Linked DNA regions of Homo sapiens. Changing the gene in region 2 together with the main gene of any one other region gives a genetic interaction. Each region holds a gene or a part of one and is shown on either strand. Other genes may lie near its edges.

The links. A genetic interaction does not mean that the proteins touch.
Region 1: changes in DEPDC5 (region 2) and RAB1A together harm fitness more than expected from each alone (negative genetic interaction), as found in Homo sapiens cells (one large-scale study listed by BioGRID).

What each region holds. Positions count from the first base shown.
Region 1 is NC_000002.12:65,099,016-65,102,666, forward strand, and holds part of RAB1A (ras-related protein Rab-1A), read right to left. Parts: intron 1-3,651. UniProt on the Homo sapiens protein: The small GTPases Rab are key regulators of intracellular membrane trafficking, from the formation of transport vesicles to their fusion with membranes.
Region 2 is NC_000022.11:31,840,950-31,844,600, forward strand, and holds part of DEPDC5 (GATOR1 complex protein DEPDC5), read left to right. Parts: intron 1-2,145; coding exon 2,146-2,263; intron 2,264-2,695; coding exon 2,696-2,863; intron 2,864-3,651. UniProt on the Homo sapiens protein: As a component of the GATOR1 complex functions as an inhibitor of the amino acid-sensing branch of the mTORC1 pathway.

The DNA.
Region 1 (3,651 bases), on a different chromosome or scaffold from region 2:
TAGTAGAGACAGGGTTTCGTGATGATGGTCAGGCTGGTCTCAAACTCCTGACCTCTAGTGATCCCCCTGCCTGAGCCTCTCAAAGTGCTGGGATTACAGGTGTGAGCCACCATGCCTGGCCCATTTTATTGGCTGAATAATATTACATGTACTACAAATATACAACATTTTATCCATTCATAAATTGATTTGGGTTGTTTCCACTTCTTGGCTATTATGAATAATGCTGCCATGAACATTTGTGTACAAGTTTTCCTGTGAATATATGTTTCCTGTCAATTTTTTAACCTAATGTTAAACTTTTAAAATTATAACTGCTTCTTGCAAGTACCTGCCATGAAATTTTATTCAGAATGGAATAAAAATATTTCTCGTGAAAAGATATATGAATGAACAGACCAGGCTATCATCATATGAACCACAAAGCACCACCTAAGAAGTACTCTGTCAACAAAGATGGACCTTAATCGAATCAGGTCTAATGAGAACGGCACTGCCAAACAGAACTTCCTGTGACAATGGAAAGGTTCTATAAGCTGTGCTAGCCAATATGGTAGCCATTAGCCCTATGCAGCTTGTGAAACAAGAAACTAAGTTTTTGATTTTTTCAATTATTTTTCCCCCTTAAAGGGACAGGGTCTTGATGTCTCCCAGGCTAGAGTACAATCGTAGCTTACTGAAGCCTTGAACTCCTGCACTCAAGCAATCCTCCCACCTTGGCCTCCCAAAGTGCTGGGATTACAGGTGTGAGCCACCAAACTTTTTCAATTTTAATTAATTTAAATTTAAATAGCTACATAGAGCTAGTAGCTACTCTAAGGATAGTGCAGTTCTAGGTCTTCTAATTACAGAAAGAGGGACAAACAAATAAGCATAAGGACATCACAAGGAAGCAAAATGACAAATCTAGAATATTGGACAATCTACAGGACAAGTGCTTCAGTTTCTGCAAAAAGTCAATGACATAAAAAATATATAAATAAAAAAGATAAGGTATAAAACTCTAGATTAAAAGACTAAGCAAGAAAACAACCAAATGGAAACTGTATTTTGCAGGTTGATAATGGCAATGTCATTTTATAAGAAAATGTTTTTAGAAATATGGGCCGGGCATGATGGCTCACACCTGTAATACCAGCACTTTGGGAGGCCAAGGTGAGTGGATCACAAGGTCAGGAGTTTGAGATCAGCCTGGCCAAGATGGTGAAACCTCATCTCTATTAAAAATACAAAAAATTAGCTGGACGTGGTGGCGGGCGCCTGTAATCCCAGCTACCCGGGAGGCTGAGGAAGGAGAATCACTTGAACCCGGGAGGTGAAGGTTGCAGTGAGCCGAGACTGTGCCACTGCACTCCAGCCCAGGCGACAAGGCATGTCTCTGTCTCAAAAAAAAAAAAAAAAAAAAAAAGTTATGTTGTAATTGAGTGCCTAATAAGTATCAGGTACTATAGAAGTATATAGAGGCCAGGCGCAGTGGCTCACATATGTAATCCCAGCACTTTGGGAGGCCAAGGTGGGAGGCTCACTTTAGATCAGGAGTTCAAGACCAGCCTGGCCAACATGGTGAAACCCTGTCTCTACTAAAAATACAAAAAATTAGTGGGTGTGATGGCACACGCCTGTAAACCTAGCTAGTCAGGAGACCAAGATGGAGAATCGCTTGAACCCATGAGGTGGAGGCTGCAGTGAGCCGAGATTGCACGACTGCACTCCAGCCTGGGCGACAGAGCGAGACTCCATCTCAAACCAAAAAAAAAAAAAAAAAAATGCAGAGAACAAAATGAATGCAATAAATATTCATGTAGCACATCTATCCCCCAGGTACTTGGATAGAAATACTGAATTCTTGGCCGGGTACAGTGGCTCACGCCTGTAATCCCAGCACTTTGGGGAGCAGAGGTGCACATATCACTTGAGCTCAGGAGTTGGAGACCAGCCTGACCAACATGGTGAAACCCCATCTCTACTAAAAATACAAAAATTAGCCAGGCACAGTAGTACACGCCTGTAATACCAGCTACTCGGGAGGCTGAGGCATGAGAATCACTTGAACCCGGGAGGTGGGAGTTATAGTGAGCTGAGATCATGCCACTGTACTCCAGCCTGGATGACAGAGCTAGACTCCATCTCAAAAAAAAAAAGAAAAAGAAAGAAATGCTGAATTCTTGTAAATCTCTAAATGACCTTTACTCCCATGCCTGAGCCGTTACTATTCGTCTGCCCAAAAGCCTCAGTTATCTCTCTCTGCATAACCCTACTTACTCCCCAGCCCCAAGGTCATGTGGCATTTATTCATCCTTCAGTTTTGAGCTCAGGCAATACTGAGTGTCCAAACAATTTCTTCAACTCCTCAGCCAATAGATTCTTCCCTCTGTGCCCCCAGAGCTTATTGCACATTTCTTTATTATAGTCCTCACGATTGTCTCTATTAATATTTTGAGGGTATGGGGATCAGCATTTTAAAAATAGTTTCCAGGTATTATTGGAAAACCTTTGACTTCAAGCAATGGACATCCCAGAGAGGGTTTTCCTTGAGGCACAAACGCCTGAGGCTACAGCTAGATTCTTCCCACCTACCGAGAGTTGCTTAAGAATTATGCTTAATTTTAATATTTGCCAATTTAATAAAAATTAAATGACACCTAAGTTTAACTTAAAGGCCTTTAATTACAAATAAAGTTGAGCCTTTTTTTTTTTCCATATTTATTGGCAATTTGTATTACTTCCTTTTTTTTTTTTTTTTTTTTTTTTGAGATGGAGTTTCGCTCTTGTTGCCCAGGCTGGAGTGCAATGGTGCGATCTCGACTCACCACAACCTCCGCCTCCTGGGTTCAAGCAATTCTCCTGCCTCAGCCTCCCAAGTAGCTGGGATTACAGGCATGCGCCACCACATCCGGCTAATTTTGTATTTTTAGTAGAGACAGGGTTTCTCCATGTTGGTCAGGCTGGTCTCGAACTCCTGACCTCAGATGATCCGCCAGCCTCAGCCTCTAAATGCTGGGATTACAGGCGTGACCCACCACACCCAGCCAGCAATTTGTATTACTTCTTTTTTCAACTGACTGCTCATGTATTTGCCACTATTTCCATTAGGAGAAATATTCTTTTCTTGTTGATGTGCAAATGTGCTTTATATGTTGAGAATACCAATCCTCATATATATATATTTGCTATTGCCATTAGTTTTCTAACATTTTTGTGCCTGTGATAAATTAATTTTAATAGTCAAATTTAGCAGTGATTTCTTGCTTTTTTCTTATTTTAAAAAATACCTTCACAAACCAAGATTAAAGAGCCACCTATGTTTTATTCTAGTACTCATGGTTTTATTTTTAACTGTTATATAAAAAGAATTATACATTATTTAATATTTTTTAAATAACCTTCATTAATATCGGCACTCATCAGAAAAGTCATATGTATTTAGGATACTGTCAAGTGGTAAACTCTAAGTTTTTTCAAATTCTAATTTTCCATGATAAACTTAAATTTTATTTCAGCCAACAAATGCTTGCAGCTACTTCCCTTGAAATGACTATCACAGTTCATCTGAGAAAATCTGTCAAATAGCCAATTCTGTTCTAATCTGTCTGTTAGCTGTTCTTTCAAGTTAAAAAAAAAAAAAAAAATGTCCAGGTGCAGTAGTTCACG
Region 2 (3,651 bases):
ACCATGCAGGATAAACACAGAAATAACTGGGGTGCACCTAATTTAGAATGGGGGTGTCAGGTACGATGTCAGATGCTCATGAACCTTGTCCCATGGCATTGTCTTCCCAACAGCCAGCAGAGTGTTTGTTGCATGAATGAAGAAGGAATGCTTGGATGAGGGCTTGCCCTCTTTCTTGCTGTAGAAAGTGAGATTTGGTGCCCAAGATCACACAAGCTGGCAAGTGAAAGTGCTGGGGTTGGACCTGGGGTCCCCTGAGTAGCTTCTGTTTTGTATGCAGCTGGCCTGCTACTCCCTTGGCACCATCGGGGAAATTTCCACATTCACAGTGAATATTATTTCAGCCTCTGCTGTCCTCCTCTCTCCTCTTGACCGCTCACATGCTGCCTGTCACTGTGTGACTGTCTCAGAGCTGAATGAGTGTTACCAGTGGAAGGTGTCCAGGTTCTTGGCACCTCAAAGAGTTGGACAAAATGCACAAACAAAGCAAGGAAAGAATGAAGCAGCAAAAGGAGAGATTTATTGAAAATGAAAGTACACTCCACAGTGTGGGAGTGAGCTGGAGCATAGGGGCTCAAGGGCTCCTTTACAGAATTTTTTAGGGTTTAAATACCTTCTAGAAGTGTCCCGTTGGTTACTTGGTGTACACGCTATGTAAATGAAGTGGTGGCTCGCAATCAGTCTGATTGGTTGCTGAAGTGAAGTTACAAAGTTACACTTCTATGCAAACGTCTGTTTGGTTGTAAAAATCAAACCAATCAGAGACACTTTCAGTTTTCCATCTGCCTCACAGAAAAAGCGGAGAGTGGTTTGTGAAGGGAGTAACCTCCGGTCCTTTTGTTACTTAGGTGTGGAAAGTTGGGGTTTTCCTTTTGATTTAGTTCTAGGAAGTCAGCCTGAATTAGTCTTAGGTTCCCTGCCTCCAGACCCTGTTCTCCTGCCTCAAGAGGACTGCCTTTCATTTCTAGATCAAAGGAATCTTGGCTTGGCTTGGTTGTTCTTTGAGGCATGATTTTTACTCTCTTGAACACTTGTCATTTTCTTGATTCCTGATTATTTTCCTCTTTCCTGCGTTCAGTTCAGTTCAGCTAATACTGGACATGGCACTTTATCAGGTGCTTCTAAAAATGTAAGGAGGAACAACGTTTGAGCCCTGGCCTCCTGGAAGTTTTAATTTGTAAGGGGTGACAGATATACGCACAAGGAACTATATACAAGGTAGGATTCAGACTGCTGATGGGGCCTGATGGCTTTCTGGAAGAAGTAGCATTTGATGGTGACTTCAGATGATCTGGGATTTCAGTGGTGGCCCAGGAAGAGAATGCAAAAGAAACAACATGAGCAGGCTGAGCACGGTGGCTCACGCCTGTAATCCCAGCACTTCGGGAGGCCGAGGCGAGTGGATCATCTGAGGTTGGGAGTTCAAGACCAGCCTGACCAACATGGAGAAACCCCGTCTCCACTAAAAATACGAAATTAGCCTGGGGTGGTGGAGCGTGCCTGTAATCCCAGCTACTCGGGAGGCTGAGACAGGAGAATTGCTTGAACCCAGGAGGTGGAGGTTGCAGTGAGCCGAGATCGGGCCATTGCACTCCAGCTTGGGCAACAAGAGCGAAACTCCATCTCAAAAAAAAAAAAAAAAAAAGAAACAACATGAGCAAATATTTGCAGCAAATCAATAAATGGTCCTTTTAGACTGAAACTTGGTATAGCAGTTTAGGATTAGTGAGAGCTAGGACCAGAAAGCTAGGTTGGCTGCCACCTTGGAGTGAGAACCTCGAATGCCAAGGTGGGCAGCTTATGCTGGTGTAGTAGAGTTCCATTTTAGTAACACAGTCATCTCTTACAGAACTTTCCTCTCCAGAGGATGAGGTATCAGGTTGTTCAGCTTTGAGTGTGCCATCTAGGTGCTATCAGCTAGCACCTTCAGGCTCTAATCTGCTCCTGGTTGGTTTAATAACAGAAAAATCTGCCAACCTCAGGAGTTTTTTGTTTGTTTTTTTTAACCAAGAATAACTTTCTTCCATGAAACTGCCCCTAAGAGAAAGTGTTACATTGTTTTCTGAATCTATATGGATGAGAAACAATTGTCTGTTATAGGAATGAGCTTCAAACAGATGGAGGAAATTATTATTTTTCTGTTAGGCCTTGTGTCCCGAAACCGCCCTGAGGAGGAGGACCAGTATTGGCTGAGTATGGGCAGAACGTTCCACAAAGTGACGCTGAAGGATAAGATGATCACAGTGACGCGATACCTTCCCAAGTGAGTATTTGGATATTTAAAGTCTTCAGTTATTGTCCTGAATTATGGCCACATACTAAATTGTGTGTATAGTACATCATTCAAACTGAGGAAGTTCAGTGGTTGGTTTTTCTTTTGGAGTTTTGTTTGTTTGTTTCTAGGGTTATTTTAGGGTTATAGCTTACCTACTTCCAAAAGGGATTTGATTCATCTTATAATGTTTAGCATGATTCATGACAAGCCTATTTCAAATAAAGATTGTGAGGAGAGAAGAAGGAAAGAGTTTAAGAAGATCTGAGAAATTTCTAGTACCGTTCCCTGGGATAAGTTGGTTACTACAGTTGAGGGGTAAATGTCAAGGATGGTTCTAAGTGTATAGAGATAGAAAATAAGAATTGGCAGGAATTTGTCTCTAACTCTTTTGAATTTGGGGACCTGCCCTTTATTTTGCAGGTATCCTTATGAATCTGCCCAGATCCACTACACCTACAGCCTCTGTCCTTCCCACTCAGACTCAGAGTTCGTCTCCTGCTGGGTGGAATTCTCCCACGAACGGCTGGAGGAGTACAAGTGGAATTACTTAGATCAGTATATCTGTTCTGCCGGCTCTGAAGACTTCAGGTCAGAGAGTGGGCTTTGGATTTCCATCTTTGCATCCTTGGGCAAGGATGTGTATGTGTATTTTAACACTTTCTGCCCTTTCTCTCTCTCTCCCTTTTTCTTTTTTTTTTTCTTTGTAAAGAGACAGGGTTGACTGGGCGCGGTGGCTCATGCCTGTAATCCCAGCAATTTGGGAGGCCGAGGTTGGCAGATCACCTGAGGTCAGGAGTTCGAGACCAGCCTGGCCAGCATGGCAAAATCCTGTCTCTACTAAAAATACAAAAATTAGCTGGGTGTGGTGGTGCGTGCCTGTAATCCCAACTACTTGGGAGACTGAGGCTGGAGAATCGCTTGAACCCAGGAGGTGGAGGTTGCAGTGAGCCAAGATCAAGCCATTGCACTCCAGCCTGGGCAACAAGAGTGAAACTGTCTCAAAAAATAAATAAATAAAAAAAAATAAAATTAACTGGGCATGGTGACATACCCCTATAGTCCTAGCTACTCAGGAGGCCGAAGTGCTTGAGCCCAGGAGGTCGTGGCTACAGTGAGCCTTGATAGTGCCACTGCACCCTAGCCTGGGCAACACAGCAAGACCTTGTCTCAAAAAAATAAAATAGGTTAATGTGATAAATTTTTTGTTATGTGTATTTTGCCACAGTTGAAAAAACAAACCCCATGAAGCTCAGGGATGACGTGCCCTTGATGCAAGTGGCAGTGCAGATTGCCTTCTTAACGTTCTCTCCACTAGTTGGCTGGTAGCTTTGTGACGCCTGATTTTTAATTTTTGATTTCTATGCATGATTTGTGAT